Linked DNA regions of Homo sapiens: region 2 is linked to region 1. The links come from fine-mapping of genetic effects on gene expression. A gene starts in region 1. The other region holds a variant in brackets. All regions are shown on one strand. Distances are from middle to middle. Region 1 holds the start of GAREM2 (GRB2 associated regulator of MAPK1 subtype 2). Region 2 overlaps HADHA (hydroxyacyl-CoA dehydrogenase trifunctional multienzyme complex subunit alpha).

Evidence for each region. PIP is the estimated chance that this variant, and not a neighbour inherited with it, causes the effect. A credible set is the group of variants that fine-mapping cannot tell apart.
Region 2: its variant is the best candidate, but not a certain one, in a credible set for the expression of GAREM2 in atrial appendage (GTEx, PIP 0.70).

Annotation. Positions count from the first base shown.
Region 1 is chr2:26,167,867-26,178,237 of GRCh38, forward strand. It overlaps GAREM2 (GRB2 associated regulator of MAPK1 subtype 2), which reads left to right and starts at 5,222. Exons shown (of 6, transcript NM_001168241.2): 1 at 5,222-5,466; 2 at 8,478-8,618. The coding sequence starts at 5,355. RefSeq lists an enhancer at 7,684-8,222.
Region 2 is chr2:26,223,037-26,233,407 of GRCh38, forward strand. It overlaps HADHA (hydroxyacyl-CoA dehydrogenase trifunctional multienzyme complex subunit alpha), which reads right to left. Exons shown (of 20, transcript NM_000182.5): 6 at 9,124-9,243; 7 at 7,156-7,258. Among named protein-coding and RNA genes, the nearest start is that of HADHA, 16 kb to the right of the region's middle. The variant C/T (reference allele first, on the strand shown) is at 5,795.

The sequences.
Region 1 (10,371 bases):
GGTCTCAGGTTCCAGCCTAGCCTGGCAAAATAGCAAGACACCATTAAAAAAAAAAAGTTTCTATCTTTAGAGGTAGATATAGAGATATTTAAAGATAAAATACTGGGCTCAGTGGCCCATACCTGTAGTCCCACCCACTTGGGAGGATTGTTTGAGCCCAGGAGTTCAAGACCAGCCTGGGAAGTATAGTAAGACCCTCTTTTAAAAAATACAAAGAAAGGCCAGGTGCGGTGGCTCACGCCTGTAATCCCAGCACTTTGGGAGGCCGAGGCAGGCAGATCACCTGAGGTAGGGGTTCAAGACCAGCCTGGCCAACATGGTGAAACCCTGTCTCTACTAAATAATACAAAAATTAGCCAGGCATGGTGGTGGGCACCTGTAATCCCAGCTACTTGGGAGGCTGAGGCTTGAACCTGGGAGGCAGAGGTCGCAGTGAGCTGAGATTGTGCCATTGTACTCTAGCCAGGGTGACATGGTAAGACTGTCTCAAAAATAAAATAGAAAAACAAAAAGAAAACTAGATTGTAATGATGTTTGCAAGATACGATGAATACTAAAAACACTAAATGGTAAACTTTAGATGGGTGAATTGTATAGTATGTGAATTATATTTCAATAAAGTTGTTTTTAACACTCCAAGATGGGTGACGGAGGGAAGACCCTGTCTCTAAAATGAAAAAAAAAAAAAAAAGAAAACTTTTTTTTTTTTATCCAGTGAGGAAGGGTTGTAAGCAGGTACACAAAAATCAGATCAGCCGTGGGTTGGTAGGTGCTAAAGCTGGAAGATGAGCACACGGGAAGTCACATGCTATTATCTCTAGTTGTGTCTACATTTAGAATGTTCTGAAATAAAAAGTTAAATACAATATTACCTAAATTTCTCATAGGTGCTTTCCTAAATGTTTCCTGGCCTCGCCCAGTTCATGATCCCAGAAAAGGCCATCTGTCCTCTAGATGGGGTGGGGCAGGGTACTTTATAAATAATAACCCTAGCTGCTGTGGGCAGCTTTCCCTGCCTCTACTCCATTGACCTCTATGCTCCGCTCACGGGCAGCCTGGCCAGCCTCTGCCACAGCCTGGCCTCTGGGTCAACACTGGGCCTCTGGTAGGGCTGTGACCCCTCCCTACTTTTTCCTCCCCTCCAGCCAATAGGGCTCTCCTTCTTAAAATTTTTTTTATTTTTGAGACAGTGTCTTGCCCCATCACCCAGGCTGGAGTGCAGTGGCATGATCACAGCTCATTGCAGCCTCAACCTCCTGGGCTCAAGTGATCCTCCTGCCTCCGCCTCCCGAGTAGTTGGGACCACAGGAGCACACCACCATGCCTGGCTAGTTTTTGTATTTTTTGTAGAGACAGAGTTTCACTATGTTGCCGGCCTAGTCTCAAACTCCTGGGCTCAAGTGATCTGCCCGCCTCAGCCTCCCATAGTGGTGGGATACTATGCTGGGCCAGGCTCCACCTTCTACTTGTCACTGCCAGCGCTGTCAGAGTGGAGCCCACTGCAGAGGAGCTGGGATCCCCTTGGCTGGGCTCTTTCTTCTGTTCCTCCTCCCTCTCTTTCCCCCAGCTGACTCTCCTGGAGCGGGAAGCACAGGCCCAGCCACACACAGCACCTAGGCCCCAGATTCTCCCACGGCCACACCAAGCCACACAGCCTGGCCTCTCTGCCCAGCATCTTCCTCCCTCTTGGTGCCCTCTTGGCTCTCCTTCCTGCAATCTCAGTCCAAGGAAAGATCTAAACATTTCTGCCTCCAAGAGAAGCTGAGTTCCTTCCTGCAGGACTCCTGAGCCTCAGCAAATCAAGTGATGTATGTGTCTGGACACTTGTGTCAGGTCCCTGGAGACTTGACAACAGTTAAGAAGCCCTGGAAAGGCTCTGGAATATTCTGCAACAGTGAGGAGGTGGGTCCATTTAGTTAGGTGAATCTGCCTGGTGTCTCACAGCGGTGTTGCCCCTAACTCAGCCGAAATCCAGGGTTATAGGTTTTGGGTGTGAAATAGGCAGGTTGCCTGGGGGAGAGAAGATCCAAACTGTGAACGAAAGCCTGGCTGGGACTGGAGCTCCTGGGAAGAGGAGGCTGGGGCTCCATGACACCTGGTGGAAGAGGAATTGCCAGCACTTGGTGACTAGTTTGGTATAAAGGTTAGGGAGAAGATTTCCAGGTTGGGAGACCAGGGTAAAGGAGATGTCCTCAGCTGGGATAGAAAATAAAAGGGGACCCGGTTCAAGTGTGATTGTGGAAATGGAAGTGGCTGTGAACGCCTTTTGGGGGCGAAGGGGTAGAGCTGGAAGTTGAGGTCGGGAGCTGAGGAGAGCCGGCCATGCTGAGTAAGAGAAGCCACCGTAGATGTGGCGTCTCTGTCCAGGGCGCAGGGAGAAGGTGACCACGTGGCTCAATGCCAGTTTATACCTGCTGTCTGGAGCCCAGGCTACCTGCACCTGTTGTCCTAGCTGGGTGGGGAGGTGGTTAGTACCGGCTTCCCTCTTAAAAGTCTCCCAGTTAGGATGACACACGGTCACCCTAAAGAGAGACCCTACAGGGTAGGGGAAGAAAAGTGAATCTAAGGCAGCACCCTTCTCATTCACTTGCTTCTTCCGGCCTTTTCGCCCTCCTGTCTCAGACCTTCCATTCCCTTCTTTTCTTTTTTTTTTTTTTTGAGATGGAGTTTCGCTCTGTCACCCAGGCTGGAGTGTAGTGGCACGATCTCGGCTCACTGCAACCTCCGCCTCCCAGGTTCAAGCAATTCTCCTGCCTCAGCTTCCTGAGTAGCTGGGATTACAGATGTACCTGGAGTGGCAGACAAGCACCACCATGCCCGGCTAATTTTTTGCCTGGATAATTTTTGTATTTTTAGTAGAGACAGGGTTTCACCATGTTGGCCAGGCTGGTCTCGAACTCCTGACCTCAAGTGATCCACCTGCCTTGGCCTGCCAAACTGTTGAGATTACAGGTGTGAGCCACCGCGCCTGGCCCATTCCCTTCTTAAGACTCCTATATTTTCACTGTATTTTCTTTTCTTCTCCTGCCAGGCTTCACCTTCCCACTTCCCTGGGAAAGAACCCACCCCACCCCTACAGACTCAGGAGAGCGGAGTCCATCTGGGCTGCCTGAGTCACCGGGGTGAGCAGCTCCTCCCTGGCCAGGGTGAGCGGGCTGGGTTTGGGCCAGGCTGGGGAAGGGCCTCGGTCAAGTTGGTAGGTGGGGGTCCTGCCTTCTGGTCGCAGCGCTGCCTCTTTCTTGCCGTGTGACCTTAGAGCAAAGCATTTCTGCTCTTGGAGTCTCAGTTTTTTCCTCTGCAGCAGTTGAGGATTGAACCACTGATCTAAAACGTCTCTTCTCGCTGAGAAGTGGTGTTCATCTTGTCGGCTGCCATTTCTCATGGGGTTCGAGCCATAAGATGCCAGGTGTCAGTCACCTCAGAAGAGAGGGTTTTGTTTGTATTTGGTGGGGTTCTTCCGGGGGTACCGAGGCTGAGGACTGATGGATCGAGGCGGGTGGATCACTTGAGTTCGGAGTTCGAGACCAGCCTGGCCAACATGGCGAAACCCTGTCTCTACTAAAAATACAAAAATTAGCCAGGTGAAAAATTAGCCGGGCATGGTGGTGCTTGTCTGTAATCCCAGCTACATATGTAATTCCAGCTACTCAGGAAGCTGAGGCAGGAGAATTGCTTGAACCTGCGGGGCGGAGGTTGCAGTGAGCCGAGATCGTGCCACTACACTCCCGTGAGGGAGCAGCCTAGGGACTAAGGCCCGCTGGCTCCGCGAGATCAGCCAGGCCCGCATCATCCCCCAATTACCTGCAGAGGGCGCCGCAGACACAGAGAGGGCGAGGCCGAGGCCGAGGCCATCTAAGCTTCTGGGAAGGGGGTCCCAAAGGGAGGCCCCGAGCTGGAGTCCAGGGGGCTTGGAAGGAAGAGGTGAGGACAGCAGAAAAGGAAACGCAAATTAAAAGAAGGGAACGAAGGCTGGGCGCGGTGGCTTACGCCTGTAAGTCCAGCACTTTGGGAGGCCGAGTCGGGAGGATCGCTTGAGGTCAGGAGTTCAAGACCAGCCTGGCCAACATGGTGAAACGCCGTCTCTACTAAAAATACAAAAAAATTAGCCAGGAGTGGTGGCAGGTGCCTGTCATCCCAGCTACTCCGCAGGCTGAGGTGGGAGGATCGCTTGAGCCCGGGAGGTGGGGGTTGCAGTGAGCCGAGATCGCGCCACTGCACTCCAGGCTGGGTGATAGAGTGAGACCCAGTCTCAAAAAAAGAGAAGGAAAAGAGAGAAGGGATGGTGGCGGTGGGGGAGGAAGGCGGTTCTTGTAATGATCCGAGAGGAGACCGCAGCACCGGTTACGCCCTCGAACCTCGGCCTCCTCATCTGCAGAATGGACGCAGTCCACACCGCGTGCTGTGGAAGGGTTGGAGCGCCGGTTTACATGACACAGGGCTATCGGCTAAGGGGGCGCTGGGAACGTGGAAGGTGCTCTATGGTGGGGCGCTGTAGGGTGCTCTTGGGCAGTAGGGTTGGAGTCAAATCTGGGTTGAAGTCCAACCTAGGTTGAAGTCCTGGCTGCCACCTGACCTCTGCCCCTCAGTTTGCTCATCAGTAAAATGGGGTTAAGGAGGCTGCCTCGCCCAGCTCCACGGAGCCGGAGGTGATGAAGGTCCTGGAAGAGCAGAATTCAGAACCCGAGCTTTGGGCGGCGGAGCAGGACAGGGCGCGGGTGGGCGCGGCCTCCGGGAGGCCAGCACGAGGGGGAGCGGCGGGGCCCGGACACACCCAGCCAGAAGGAGGAGGCCGACCCCGCGCCGACTCCGCAGATGCCGCTCGGGACTTCGTTGTCCCTCCAGGCGCCCGCCCTGGGGTCCTCCATCACCCGCCGTCACCTGGGCGCGGGGAAGCTGGCGGGAGGGGAGGCGGGGCTTGGCGGCAGCGGCGGGTGGGGGCCGGGGAGCGGGGGCAGGGGCGGGCGGACGGAGCGCGGGGCTGGGGACCCGGGGTCCCAGAAGGGGGCGCGGGGACGGGGTCCGAGGAGAGGGGGCCGGGGCGGGGCAGGGCGGACAGGGCTGGGGGCGGAGGTCCGGGGGTGGGTCCGGCGGCGAGTCCGGGTCGGGGCGGACAGAGCAGGGGGCGGGGGTCCGGGAGGAGGGGGCCGGGGTCCGGGAGGAGGGGGCGGGGCCCGGGGGCGGGGCCGGGGTCGGCGCCCTGCGGGGAGGCCGGCCACGTGACGCCCGCGGCCCGGCGGGGCTGCCAGGCGGCGAGCGCCGCGGCGGCCCCGGGAGGTGGCGGCGGGCGCGAGAGCCTGGGCCGCGCGGGACTGACCGTCGGGGCCCCGGGACGGCGGCCCCGGGGCGCCCATGCCATGGAGAAGCTGGCGGCCGGGCTGGCCGGCCTGCGCTGGAGCATGGGCGCCTTCCCGCTCGACCTCATCGTCAGCCGCTGCCGCCTGCCCACGCTCGCCTGCCTTGGGCCAGGTACCGGGGTCGCTGGAGATGGGGACCGGGGTCCGCGGGGAAATGGTGGGCTCTCCAGCCAGGGGCCAGAGGGATCGTGAGGAGGGTGCGGCACCCGCACCCTCCCAGCTCCCCGGCGTGGGCCCCGAGCGGTTCCTGGCGCGCCTCCCGGGAGACGCGGGGCCCACCCGCCAGGTCCGCCTCCTGGGCCCCGCGGACAAGCACAGGCACAGACACCGGGGACAGGGCCCGGGACAGAGTTTTCCCGCCCAGCTGGAGTCCGGAAAGGGGCCGAGCCCCTGCTCCCGCCCCGTCGGTTGCCCCCCTTTCCCCCGCTGCCCCTGGGCCCCCCGCCCCGGCCGCGCCCCCTTGGTCCCTTTGTCCCTGGCCTCTCACCTCTGTCTTCCCTCATCCCTGGGACCCGGACTCTGTCTTCCCCTTACCGCCACCCCTAGTCCTGCTCCGCCCCTCTGGGGACCCTTCTTGCACCTCCTTTCTCTTCCCTAGGAGCAGCCTCGGTCCTGGGGCGGGCAGGCCACCTTCGGGAGAGGCCGGCGGGAGCCGGGTCTGCTGCCCGGCGTGACCCCCAAACTCCCGGCCCTCCCCCGAATCTTGTCCCACTTCTTAATAGGACCTGGGGCCCCCAGCCGCTCGGCTGATGGAACCACGCATGGGGGCCCGAGAGGGTACGCCCGGAGGCTGCATGGAGCGAGGGGACCGTTTGGGGGGAGGGGGGTGCTGCTTGGTTGGGGGATGGGCGGTAGCCGGGGCTGGCAGCCAGGCCGGGGGTTTTGTGTGTGAGAAGAATAGGGGTTTGGCCCGCGTTGGCACACTCGCTTCCATGAATGCTAATGGGGCCCGCGGCCGCAGGCTCCTCGTCTCCCCGTGGGGCCCGGCAGCCCCTCCTCCGTGGCGGCCAGGAGTGGGCACAGTGGGCGTCAGCTGTCCCGGGAGCAGGCTCATGGGGGAGCATCGGCGCCCCGCCGTCGGGCAGGCCAGCGTCTAGTTCTCTGGCTCGCGGCCGAGTGGTCAGAGTGTGGTACTGTGTCTGCCTGTGAATGGAGGTCGCTGCCCTGGGGTCTTCTGGCCACTTCCCACACATCCTTTTTGGCATCTCCCCTTTCTGGGCAGCTTTTCTGAGCTCCTCGGTCTGCGTAGGGCCTCCTTTGGGCTCCCCGGCCACCTCATGCCAACTCTGGCTTGTCTCCTACTGTGCACCCCATTATAATGGTCAGTCAGTTTATTGTCTTTAGACCTGGCTGTGGGCTCCTTGAGACCAGGCATCCTTGCCCAATAAAGATTATGGATTGAATGAATGGGTGAGTGAATGAACAACTGGTGTGATGGCCCAGCTGTCTGTTGTGTGTGACAGTGTGTGGCTATGGCTGGGTCACCATCAGGGTGTGAATGTCTGGTCAGAATTGTATGGCTTGAAGGGTAGGTCCCTGTGTGCCTGTGCATTTGGGAGGGGCCCCTTGGCCGGAGACTGAGTTATGTTGTTTGGGTGACAAGCATCTGTCACTGTGGGCTATTGTGGTTCAGCTGTTGGTGGTCATGAGCCATGATTACTGCTGTGTGCCCATGTGGCTGTGAAGATGGGGCTAGGACCCAGGACAGCTCTCAGAGGAGGGAGCAGAGTTGGAGGAGAGCTTCTTGGGCCCCCGGAGGTGAGGAGGTACAGGGGAAAGCTTAGACAACACCCCCAACACACACATAGTGGGGGCCAGGCCCTTCCTGTGCGTCTTGAACCGCCCGCCACCCTGCCACACACACACACACACATACACACACACGCCTACCCCACATGTACACATTTTATGGAGCCCCCAGCCATCAGAGTAAACCATTTCCCATTTGATTGGCAGAAATTTTGTAAGTTGTGCCTGAAGGAGAAAGGAAGGAGGTACTCCCTACCCCCACCCTCCCCACCAGCTGCAGCCCGGACACAGCCCCTTCTGCCTCCTGGAAGCTGGGCTGCCCCTCCTGCTCCCCTGGAAACCGTTGCTGGGGTTGGCGCCTCCAGGCCCAGACCCCTCCCAACTCCCAACACCTCTGCCCCAGAGCAGCTTCCCCCAGGCCCCAGGGCTGGGCCTCCCACTCCTGCCTTCTAAACCTGCTCTCTCAACCCCTCCAACCCTCAGCCGTCACCCCTGTAACTGGGAGGATGAGGGGGCGTGGGGAGGGGGTGTCAAGGAGCTGCTTCTCTGAGATGGGGTTGGGGGTTTCTGGGGACTCCCCCCTCTCCTTCGAGGTCCCCTTGACAAGGCAGTGGGTGGCTTCTCTGAGATGGGGTTGGGGGTTTCTGGGGACTCCCCCCCTCTCCTTCGAGGTCCCCTGAACAAGGCAGTGGGTGGAAAGGAAGGGCTGCCCTTGGGAGAGGCAGTAATCAGCTGCTCTAAGCCCTGTCATTCTCCTGACCTGAGCGACCCGTGGCTCTGGGGGAGCTCTCACAGCTGGGACCTTATAAGGGACAGTCCCGTCCGGGCCCTCTCCACTGCCCCAGTAGGGCCCTTCTTGCAGGGCCTAGGCCCTGACTGGGAAGCACAGCTCCAGCATCTCCTGCTCAATAAAGTCTCCCTTCGCCACCACACCCCCAGCTGGAGCCTACTGCTGCCCTCCGGGTCCCCAGACATACTCCAGTCAGTGCCTCAAACTTGCCTAGTCTCTGGTACATCTCTGCCCACCTCCCCAGGGGCCTAAGGGCTCCTGGAGGGCAGGGGCTGGTCTGGGCTCATCCATGGGGAGCTCCCCCTGCTCCAGCTCAGAGCCAGGGACAGCAGGCATTCCAGCCACTGATGAACGAGGGGCCCCGTCGGGAGTCACAGCCCTGAGAGGCTCACAGCCAGCCCCACAGCCCCAGGCCCCAGCTGGCAGCCCGCCTGTCCCTTGAGCTTTGCTGACCTGGACAGGGATTGTGTGGAGCTGTCCCTCAGGGGGGCGGTCTTGGTGAGGACGTCACTATCTGTTCTTTCTGCCCCTTCTAATGTCCTGTCTTCCTTCCCCTCATCCTCTGTCCTCCTCCCCCTTCCCAGGGGAGTACGCCGAGGGCGTCAGTGAGCGAGACATCCTGCTCATCCACTCCTGCCGGCAGTGGACAACGGTGACAGCTCATACCCTGGAGGAGGGCCACTATGTCATCGGGCCCAAGATCGACATCCCCCTGCAGTACCCAGGTGTGTCCAGCCAGGACAGATGTCATAAAGCCTGTAGGGGGGTGTAGGCAGGAGGGACTGGGGCCAGGGGTAGGGGGAACGCTGGGACTAGCGAGGCGGTGATTAGGGTTAGGGTTGGAGTCAGAGCCCAGCAGTTTTCATTCTGTTCTGTGGCACTCTGGGTTTCTGGAGAGGTGGCTCACAGGTTTTTTGATTCACATTTTATTTTAAAGTAGATTTGAAACTAATGATTAAAAAATACCCACACTCTTAAATTACTACACATCAGAGCTTAACCCTAATCAGAGGCCTTCAGGGTATACCTTCGGCTGCCACGCTTAGCCATCTTTGTGCAGACCCTCCAAGAGAACATGTCCTGCCAGGACCTTTTCTGTACCGCGCAACCAAATACCGCAGAAACCAGCGAATGCCCAAGCTGGTTACATGGCTGCACCTCTCCGCGCTGATCCTGTTTTTCCCAATTTTTGCGTTAAACCTATTGTTTCCATTGGTTGACTTTATAAGTGAATATTAAAAATTTTAGACTTCTAAAGATTATGCTAATGGACTACCTTTATTAGTTTTATACGTGACGTTGACATATAATAAGATTTTGTTTGAAGAAAGGATTCTGTTACCAAAACAGAGTACAGCCCCTTCCTTTTACAGATGATGAAACGGAAGGCTTGGGGGAGGAGGTGACTTGCCCCGTGTCACACATCTAGGAAAGGAAGAGCCTGGCCAGATCCAGGTATCTCAACTGAGGGCTGGTGTCTGCTGCACTACACCAGGAGCGTGTGGTTGCTGTCCCCTGTGTGGGAGGGATGGGAGTCTGGTGGCCCCATCCCAGAGACGTCCCCGTGTGAGCCCCGGATCCCACATCTGCCATGTGTTAAGCATGTGCTGCATGCCATATGCTGGGCCGAACATTTTTGCCATTTCATCCTCATGGCAACCTGATGAGAAAGTCTTGTCAACTCCATTTAACTCACCAGGAAACTGAGGCTCCAGGAGTTTCAGTGGCTTGCCCAGTGCCATGTTTTTTATTTCATTTTTTGTGTTTTTAGAGATGGTCTCCTTATGTTGCCCAGGATGGTCTCAAACTCCTGGTCTCAATGAAGCCTCCTGCCTCAGTCTCCCAGAGTGCTGGGATTATAGGTGTGAGTCACTGGGCCAGGCCCAGTTCTGTGTGTGTGTGTGTGTTTTCTGTTGCTCAGGCTGGAGAGGAGAGGCGCCATCTTGGCTCACTGCCTCCGAGGTTCAAGGGATTCTCCTGCCTCGGCCTACCAAGTAGCTGGGATTACAGGTGCCTGCCACCACTCTCTGCTAATTTTTGTATTTTTAGTAGAGACAGGGTTTCACCATGTTGGCCAGGCTGGTCTCAAACTCCTGACCTCAAGTGATCCGGCCGCCTTGGCCTCCCAAAGTGCTGGAATTACAGGTGTCAGCCACCAAACCCAGCCCAGTTCTGTGTTTTTAACTGCTGTGCCCAGCTGCTCCTGACAACCCCCTCACCAAGGCTGGGAAGGTCCCATTGCTTCTTCACAGGTACCCCTGCCTCCTCTGGCCCTGGGTCTCCCTGAGCCAGGAGGACAGGACTGAGCCCTTTACAGAGGCTTCTGTCTTTTACAGCCTGTGAAGTTGGTACCTGTGTACTCCACCCCCCAAACCCTTAAAAGATGTGGAAACTCACTCAGATTTCTTTCTGACCTGGGGTTCTATCTTGGGCTTGGAGCCCACTGGGGGCCTGCTCAAGCTAGAAATTTCCAAGCTT
Region 2 (10,371 bases), 55 kb after region 1:
TCTACCAGCAAAATTTCTGCTTCTTGTCCCTGCAACTTTGGGCTCTGCCTGTCTAGAGGGCTCAGTTCCAAAGGGAGGAATGCTTCCACCAGGAGACACAACAATGATTCTACTGAACTGTTAGTTAAAACTGCCATCTGGCCACTTTGGGCTCCTCATGCCTTGGAATCAACAGGCAGCAGAGGGCGGGTACTGTACTGGCTGGGGTGATTAATCCTGATTACCAAGGGGATATTAGGTTGCTACTATACAACAGAGGTAAGGAAGAGTATGTCTCAAATGTGGCAGATCTCTTAGGGTGTCCCTTAGTACTAACATGACCTCTAATTAGTCAGTAGAAGATCACAACCCAGTTCACATGGGACTGCTAGTGGCCTAGAAGACATTTTAGGAATGAAGGTCACCCCACCAGGCAAAGAACTAGGACAAACTGAGGTACTTCCTGAGGGCAAAGGGAATATGAAAAGGGGAGTAGAAATATCACCCTTTCCACACCAAACCTGGTACACAGCCAGTGCACTGCGGTGTCATCTGAGGGAGCTGCAGTCAAGGACTTGGGTCTCTGGGGCTGGCTAAGCTCTTACACAAATGTGCATTCCTAGCCTAGATGCCTTCTATTCCTAGGTCTTTTTATATGGGGACTTTGGCTGAGGCCTTCTTCAGGTGCCTCTGCTGAGACCTTGTCAAAGGAGGAAGGGGAAATCTTTTATTTATTTATTTATTTTTTTGAGATGGAGTTTCACTCTGTCGCCCAGGCTGGAGTGCAATGGTACAATCTCGGCTCACTGCAACCTCTGCCTCCCGGGTTCAAGTGATTCTCCTGCCTCAGCCTCCTGAGTAGCTGGGAATGCAGGCATGTACCACCACGCCTGGCTAATTTTCGTATTTTTAGTGGAGATGAGGTTTTGCCATATTGGCCAGGCTGGTCTCGAACTCCTGACCTCAGGTGATCTGCCCGCCTTGGCCTCCCAAAGTGCTGGTATTACAGGCATGAGCCACTGCACCTGGCCGGAATGGGAAATCTTAAAGACACTTCTCCCAGTCTACTCCACTCTCCTCACCCAGGGTCCATAAAGCCGCAGGAACCTTTTGTTCAGGGCTTTCACAACAGTGAGATGTCCCCCACTTGTATGCTAATCTACCAGATCCTCAACCAGTGTACCATTCCATGGGGAAAACGGTACTGGGGGGAAAAAGGAGCTGGCACTTTCTTTGGTTTTTAGCCTTTTGTGTAAACTATCAAAGTAAGTGAATAAAGGCTCCACTGTTACTTTCCTTTTGGGTTGTTTAATTATTTACTCTGATATTTGATAGCTCAGTTCTCTTTCCACATCAGCTGAATACTGATCTGGAAATATTATAAATATTCATTTCTGAATACAGTAATGAATACTGTACTATTTATGAGGATTTCTTATTTTGTTATGAATATATATAATTAACCAAATATTTGTGTTTCTTCTCTATCTCCTTATCATCTAATATAAGATGTATCCATAATGGTTAACTTTATATCATAGCATTTATGTTACAGAATATGAGAGAAGAGTGAATTTCACCCAAGGACTCTGCATCCTCTTCTAGGGAAAGGATTAGTGTATTTTTGGTTGTATAAAGGAGAATTGCATTATGTCAGGATAAAGTATGACTCCTGTCATTGCCTTTATTTGAAGACTATGTATGGCTTTAGGAGATGTGTATGGGTGTCAAACAGACAAGGGGTGGAGTATGATAGTCTTCAGATATGTTAACTTGGCTAGGCTACAGCCCAGTTATTCAATAAACATTAACCTAGATGTTACTATGAAGGTATTTTATAAGTGATTAAAGTCCTATCAGCTGATAAACTATCAATATCAGGAATGAATGAGGAGACATCAGTATAGAGTATAAAAACATTAAAATGACAAGTATTATGAACAGCTTTATTGCAATAAATTTGGCAAATTGTTAATAGATGAACAAATTATTTGAAAGACACAAACTACTATCGTAGCTTACTCTAGAATGGAGAACCTGAATAGCCCTATATCTATTAATTGAATTCATAAGTAAAAATTTTCCCAACAAAGAAAACTAGGAGCCCAGGAATTACTGGTTAATTCTATCAAGTATTTAAGAAATAATACCAACTCTACATAAAATCTTCCAGAAAATATAAGAGGAGGCCAGGCACAGTGGCTCACACCTGTAATCCCAGCACTTTGGGAGGCTGAGGCAGGTAGGTGGATCATGAGGTCAGAAGATTGAGACCATCCTGGCCAACATGATGAAACACTGTTTCTACTAAAAATACAAAAATTAGCCCAAGATCTCGCCACTGCACCACTCCAGCCTGGCGACAGGGTGAGACTCCATCTCAAAAAAAAAAAAAAAAGAGGAGAGAACACTTCTCAATTCATTTTATGAAGCCAGCATTATCCTGATGCCAACACCACGCAAAAATATCATAAGAAAATTATCCTTGAGACTTTATCCCTCATGATGACATAAAAATCCTTTATAATATATGACAACAAAATGGAGTTTATTCCAAGAAGCAAGGCTAGTTCAATATTCAAAAATCAATGTGACTGACATTATTAATAGACTAAAAAAGAAGAAAACCCCACAATTATCTCTGTAGATGGAGAAAAGGCATGACAAAATTCAATACTCATTCTCAGCAAACCTGATAAAGAGCACATATGAAAAACCTACAACTAACATCATACTTAATACTGAATGCTTTCCTCCTAAGACTGGGAACAAGTTGACAATACTTGTTCTCATGACTTCTATCCAGTATTGTACAAAGGTCTTAGACATTGTGGTAAGTCAAGAAAAAGAAACAAATGACATCTATATTGGAAAGAAAGAAGTCAAACTGTCTTTACTTACAGACAACATAATTATCTATGTAGAAAATCCTCAGGAATCTATTAATAAAAAAGGCTACTAGAACTAGTAAATGAATTTAGCTAAACCACAAGATACAAGGTCCATGTCCAAAAATCTTTGTATTTCTATATTCTAGTGAGAAATTAAAGTTAAAAAAGTAAAACAGCCTACAAGTATGAAATACCTAGGCATAAATTTAACAAAATGTGTTCAAGATCTATTCACTGAAAAGTACCAAACACTGCTGAGAGAAATTTAAAGACCTAAATAAACAGAGAACTTTACCATGTTCATGGATGAAATGACTCAATATTTTTAAGCTGTCAATTCTCCCCAAATTTATATACTGACTCAATGCAATTCCAATAAAAATCCTAGCAGGTATTTTTGTAGATATGGACAAAATGATTATAAAATTTGTACACAAATGCAAAGGAACTAGTATGAGCAAAATAATTTTGAAAGAAGGGACCTGAGTTGGAGGACTCATACTGCTTAATTTCAGGATTCCCTATAAAAATACAATAATCAAGACAGTGTGGTATTGGTTTAACAAAAAGACATATAGATAACTAGGAATAGGAAATCCAATTGGCCCAAACAGATAAGGTCAGTTGATTTTTGATCAAGGGATCAAAGTAGTTCACTGAGGAAATAGTAGTCTTCTCAACAAATGGTGCCAGGACATTTGGATATTCATATGCAAAAAGGGAAGAAAAGGCCCTCAATCCTTACCTCACACCATATACAAACTTGAAATGAATCACAGACCAAAATGTAAGAGCTAAAACTAGAAAATTTCTAGAAGAAAGTATACAGGAACATCTTAGTGATATTGAGTTAGAAAAATACTTTTTAGATCCCACACTAATAGCATGATCCATAAATACTCCAAATGGATCACAGACCAAAATGTAAGAGCTAAAACTAGAAAATTTCTAGAAGAAAGTATACAGGAAAACTTAGTGATCTTGAGTTAGAGAAATATTTTTTAGATACCACACTAATAGCATGATCCATAAAAGAGAAACTTGATAAACCAGACTTCATTAAAATTAAGAATTTCTGCTCTTATATAGTGAAAAGATAAGCCAGAGACTGTGAGGAAATATTTGCAAATCATATATTTGATAAAGGACTCATATCCTAATATATAAAGAACTCTGAAAACTCGATAATAGGAAAAACACTCAGTCCAAGAAAATGGGCAAAAAATTTGAACAGATGCTTCTTTATCAAATAAGATATACAGATATTCAATATCTTTGGTAATTAGGGTAATATAAAAACCACAATGAAATATGACTAATTCCAGCTGGGTGTGGTGGCACACGCCTGTAATCTCAGCACTTTGGGAGGCCAAGGCAGGGGGATAACTTGAGGTCAGGAGTTTGAGACCAGCCCTGACAACATGGTAAAACCCGATCTCTACTAAAAATACAAAAATTAGTTGGACATGGTGGTGGGCGCCTGTAGTCCCAGCTACTTGGGACGCTGAGGCAGGAGAATCGCTTGAACCTGGCAGGCAGAGGTTGCAGTGAGCCAAAATTGTTCCACTGCACTCCAGCCTGGGCAACAGAGCGAGACTTTGTCTCAAAAAAAAAAAAAGAAAAAAGAACTGTTACTACATTCCTGTTAGAATGTCTAAAATTAAAAAGATTGACCATGCAAAGTGGTTGGTACCTAGAACTCTCATACACTGCTGGTGGGAATGCAAAAGAGTATAACCACTTTGGGAAAACAGTCTGACAGAAAAGCAAACACATACCTAGCAAATACTAGTGGCATATGCCTCGTAATCCCGGCTTCTTGGGAGGCTGAGGCAGGAAGACTGCTTGAGCCCAGGAGTCTGAGGCCAGCCTGGGTGACAGAGCAAGACTCAAAGTCTCATCTCTAAATTTTTTTTTTTTCTTCCCAGAGATAAGGTCTCCCTCTCTCACCCAGGCTGGAGTGCAGTGGCCTGATCATAGCTCCATGTGACTTCAAACTCCTGGGTTCAAGCAATCCTCCTGCCTCAGCCTCCCTAGTAGCCAGGACTACAGGCATGTGCCACCACACCCAACTAGTTAAAACTTTTTATTTTGTTGAGACAGAGTCTTGCTATGTTGCTCAGGCCAAACTTTTTTTTTCAAAAGCTAATATATATCTGTTATATGGACTAGCCAATCCACTCTTCAGTACTTACCCAACAGAAATGAAACATTTGTCCACATAAAGACTTTTTTTTTTTTTGAGACAGAGTCTCGCTCTGTCACCCAGGCTGGAGTGCAGTGGCACAATCTTGGCTCACGGCAACCTCCACCTCCTGGGTTCAAGTGATTCTCCTACCTTAGCCTCCCAAGTAGCTGGGACCACAGGTGCACACCACTACACCCAGCTAATTTTTGTATTTTTAGTAGAGATGGGGTTTCGCCATGTTGGTCAGGCTGGTGTTGAATTCCTGACCTCAGGTGATCAGCCTGCCTCAGCCTCCCAAAGTGCTGGGATTAGAGGCTTGAGCCACCACGCCCAGTCACGCCCACATAAAGACTTAAAGATGAATGTTCATAGCAGCTTTATTCAGAATAGCCCTAAATTAGAAACAACTCAAATGCTCATCATTTGGTGAACGGATAAACAAACTATGGTACATTTCTACAATGGAGTAACACTCAGCAATAAGGACAAACTGCTGATATATGCAACAGTATGGATGCATCTCAAAAGCATTATGCTAAGTGAACGAAGATTAAAACAAACTACATACCAGAAATGTTTAAAAATTTTTGTTTAAAAGATGGCATCTCACTCTGTTGCTCAGGCTGGAGTGCAGTGGTGTGATCATAGCTCACTACAGCCTTGAACTTCTGGGCTCAAACAATATTCCTGTCTCAGCCTCCTGACTAGCTGGGACTACAGGTATACACTATGATAC[C/T]CAGCTAATTGAAAAAAAAAAATTCTTTTTTAAGAGATAGGATCTTGCTCTGTTGTCCAGGCTGGTCTTGAATTCCAGGCCTCAAGCAATTCTCCCACCTCAGCCTCCCAAAATGCTATGATTACAGGTGTGAGCCACCATGCACGGCTATTTTTGGATTGTGGCAGTGTTTACACAGCTATATACATTTTCAAAACTCAAATTATACATTAAAAGTTGGTCAATTTCACCAGACACAGTGGCTCACACCTGTAAATCTCGGCACTTTGGGTGGCTGAGGGAGGAGGATTACTTGAGCCCGGAGTTTGAGACTAGCCTGGAAAACAGAGTGAGATCTCGTTTCTACAAAAAATAAAAAATTAGCTGGTGTAGCAGCGTATGCCTGTGGTCTCAGCTACTCGGGGGGCACAAGTGGGAAGATCATTTGAGCCCAAAAAGTTGAGGTTGCAACAAGCTATATTCACACCACCATATTCCAGTCTGAGCAACAGAGTGAGACCCCAACATGTGTGCGCGCGCACACACACACACACACACACACACAAAATTAATACATTTACTATTATGTAAGTAATATCTCAATAATGCTGATTTTCAATAAATATAAGAGGGTAATGAACACACAAGTCAGAATAGTGGCTTCTTTGGATAAAGGGAGGCAAAGAAACTGAATGGGAGGAAGTAGCCCATCAGTAGATATCAATTATTGTTAATATTCTCAGGTTGGTTGTTTCATTTATTATATTACTAAAACAGACACAAGAAACTGAAGGAAGGTTATGCATGGATAATGATACAGGTAATTTAAGAACCAAAAATAATGACTTGACTGAATTCTGTACTCCTAATGTTCTAATTATAAAGCAAAATAAAAATCAGGGTGATGTTGAAAATGATTTAGTATTAGCTATTTTATAAAACTTCCTTCCTTAGAATAATGACTCATTTCTTAAGAGTTTGAGCTTCTCTCTGTGCTTCCTGTGATATTCAAGAGGTTAACTGTTTTTTCTTTTGAGATGGGAGTCTGGCTCTGTTGCCCAGGCTGGAGCACAATGGCATGATCTTGGCTCACTGCAACCTCAGCCCCGCCAGGTTCAAGCGATCCTCCTGCCTCAGCCTCCCAAGTAGCTGGAACTACAGGTTTGCACCACCACACCCGGCTAATCATTTTTAGTGGAGACAGGGTTTCGCCATGTTGGCAAGGCTGGTCTCAAACTCCTGACCTCAAGTGATCTTCCCGCCTCAGCCTCCCAAAGTGCTGGGATTACAGGTGTGAGCCACCGTGCCTGGCCTAAGAGGTTAACTCTTTAAGAAAATAAGTAACTTTATAAGGTCTGACTCTGAGATGTGCTAACACTTACCCAGGGGTTCCACCAGTTGGTCAACCAGTCCCATTTTCTTTGCCCTGTCTGCACGAATGCTTCTACCAGTCAGCATCATGTCCAAAGCAGCAGGCACACCCACCTAACAGGCAAGCAAGGATGAGAATATAGGGGGAAAAAAATCAGGGTGATAATTATATAGTTTACAAATCATCAAATGAACAAATATTAAAATGAGAAAAGTCAAGCCATATGTTTATGCTATTTGTCAACAGCATAGATAAGTTATATTTAATATACTGATATACACTTGGGTAACTTTGGGGATTAGATACCTCTAGCTGAAGCAAAAATGTCTTTATCTCTTAATTCAATATATAGGATTCTTATACTAATAAGGTAAAGAATTTCATGTTTCCTAAAATTGTACATTTCTGTTATTCTGAGGGGTTTTTTTCTATCATATATATAATATGTAAAATTCTGGCCAGGCACGGTGGCTCACACCTGTAATTCCAGCACTTTGGGAGGCCAAGGCAGGCGGGTCACCTGAGGTTAGGAGTTTGAGACCAGCCTGGCCCGACATGGTGAAACCCTGTCTTTACTAAAAATACAAAAAATTAGCTGGGCATGGTGGGGCACACCTGTCATTCCAGCTACTTGGGAGGCTGAGGCACAAGAATTGCTTGAATCCGGAGGCAGAGGTTGCAGTGAGCCGAGATCATGCCACTGTACTCCAGCCTGAACAACAAAAGTGACTCTGTCCCAAAAATAAAATAAAATAAAATTCTCATATTGAAACTAGAGAAGACTGTGAGAAACCTGATAGTTTTGACAAAGTCTTTAAAAAGAATTTTAAGCTTAACAAAAATAGAACTCAGCTAGGGCTGCTTATATGGCATACTAGAAGAAAGGCTTCTAGCAACATTCAAATACCAGCTATAGTTTAAGAAAAAAAAAAGAAGAAAGAAAGAAACTCAGCAAATATTTTTGATACACATATATGCATATTCATTCTTTCAATAAATCCTTATGACATTCCTATGAAGGAAAGCACATTATTATTATTAGAAAATTAACACCATAAACCTTGTTTTCTTTTGTGCTCAATTGAGATCAACTTCCCTGCAAAGAGTATTTCTGTTGAGCCTTGTTTTCACTGAGGAATCTACAGTGCCAGAAGCTATAAGGTTCAGTGGGCCCTTGAGTTGACATTAAGATTGCTCTGCAGCATCCAGGTCTGACTGTCCTTCCCTTCTCCTTGGAATTCAAAGCCTGCTGAGCCTCTTTTGGTTCCATACAACACAGCAGTGAGAACATCCAAATCAGACAATGAGGGAAAAGGTCTGCCTCTTATATTTGTAATGAAATATTAATATGACTCATGGTTTTGAAAAACTGTTAAGATGGTATTATGTGGAAAAGGAACCAATTAAACCATAAGCTCCAGAAATGCAAGACATGCATCTTAGTTATCTTTATCCTTCCTCAGAGACTAACAAAGGACCTTGATCAATAATTCTGTGGAATTAGGCCAGGCATGGTGGTTCATGCCTGTAGTCCTAGCACTTTGGGAGGCTGAGGCGGGAGGATTACCTGAGGTCGGGAGTTCAAGACCAGCCTGGCCAACATGGCGAAACTCCATCTCTACTAAAAAATATAAAAAATTAGCTGGGTGCAGTGGTGCACGCCTGTAATTCCAGCTACTGGGGAGGCTGAGGCAGGAGAATCGCTTGAACCTGGGAGGAGAAGGTTGCAGTGAGCTGAGATCACACCACTGCACTCTAGCCTGGGCTACAGAGCAAGATTTTGTCTCAAAAAAAAAAAAAAAAAAAAATCTGTGGAATTGAAAAAATAAGTACCAGGAATAAAGTCTGTCACTGATCCTGTACACTCATATTTTATTTGGTTTTTTAATTCTACAATGAATGCCCATATTATGCATTTTATACAAGAAAACAGATCTAAAGAGGGCATATAGCTTCACAAAGGGGATGTTAGACTCACCATTTTGGGCAGCCTTTGTGTGCCTCCTGCTCCTGGTAAGGCCCCCAGCAAAACTTCAGGGGTACCTAATACTGTTTTTCTGTCTTTTGTTGCTATTCTGTATTGGCATGAAATGGCAACCTTTGAACAAATGAAAGAAAATTAGAATGTTAGAAAATGTAACTTAGTAGCAACTTGAGATGGATAAGGGTCTAAAGATTATTTATAAAGCAGGAATGTGCTCACAGAATAAACTGAAATTCCTTAGGCTGGCATTTAATAATTTCTAGAATTTACCTTTTTAGCCTTTTTTTCATACTTTTCCTCTAATTTACTAACCTCTTTTTGGGCCGTAGATCTCCTAAAAAATCTACTGAAAGCTAGAGAAGCTCTCAAGAGAAAAATGCACACACAATTTTATATGGACCCCAGGTTAAAAAGCCCCGGACTCTCCAATCAAGCACGTCTACTTACAGTGTCCTAGTTGGCTTTGCTTTTGCCTTTGCTCACACCATACCATATGCGGAATTGTTTTTCCCTCCATATTCTGGTTAATCAAATTCTGCTTATAGTTTAGGACCAGGCACAGGTTTTCTTAATTAATATAGTCATGTGTCACATAATGAGGGGGATATGTTCTGAGAAATGTACCATTAGGAAATTTTGTTGTTGTGTGAACATCGCAGAGTGTACTTACACAAACCCAGATGGCAGAGCCTGCTACACATCTAGGCTATATGGGATAGCCTATTGCTCCTAGTCCAGCAGTCCCCAACCTTTTTGACGCCAGGGACAGGTTTTGTGAAAGGCAATTTTTCCAAGAACTGGGGGTGGGGTGGGAGGGAGTGGTTTCAGGATGAAACTGTTCCACTTCAAATCATCAGGCAATAGAGGCCAATGGAGTGCGCAACCTGGATCCCTCTCATGTGCAGTTCACAACAGGGTTCCAGCTCTTATGAGAATCTAATGCCACTGTTGATATGACAGGAGGCGGAACTCAGGTGGTAATGTTCACTCGCCCACTGCTCACCTCCTGCTGTGGGGCCCAGTTCCTAACAGGCTATGGCCTGGGAACTGGGGACCCCTGTCCTAAGGGGCTACAAACCTGGACTGCATGTGACTATTGAATACTGTAGGCAACTGTGGCACAGTGATAAGCATTTCTGTATCTAAACACAGAAAAGGTATAGAAAAATGTAGTGTTACAGTCTTATAGAACCACTGCTGTATGTGCAATTGGTCATTGAAACGTTATGTGGTAAATGACTG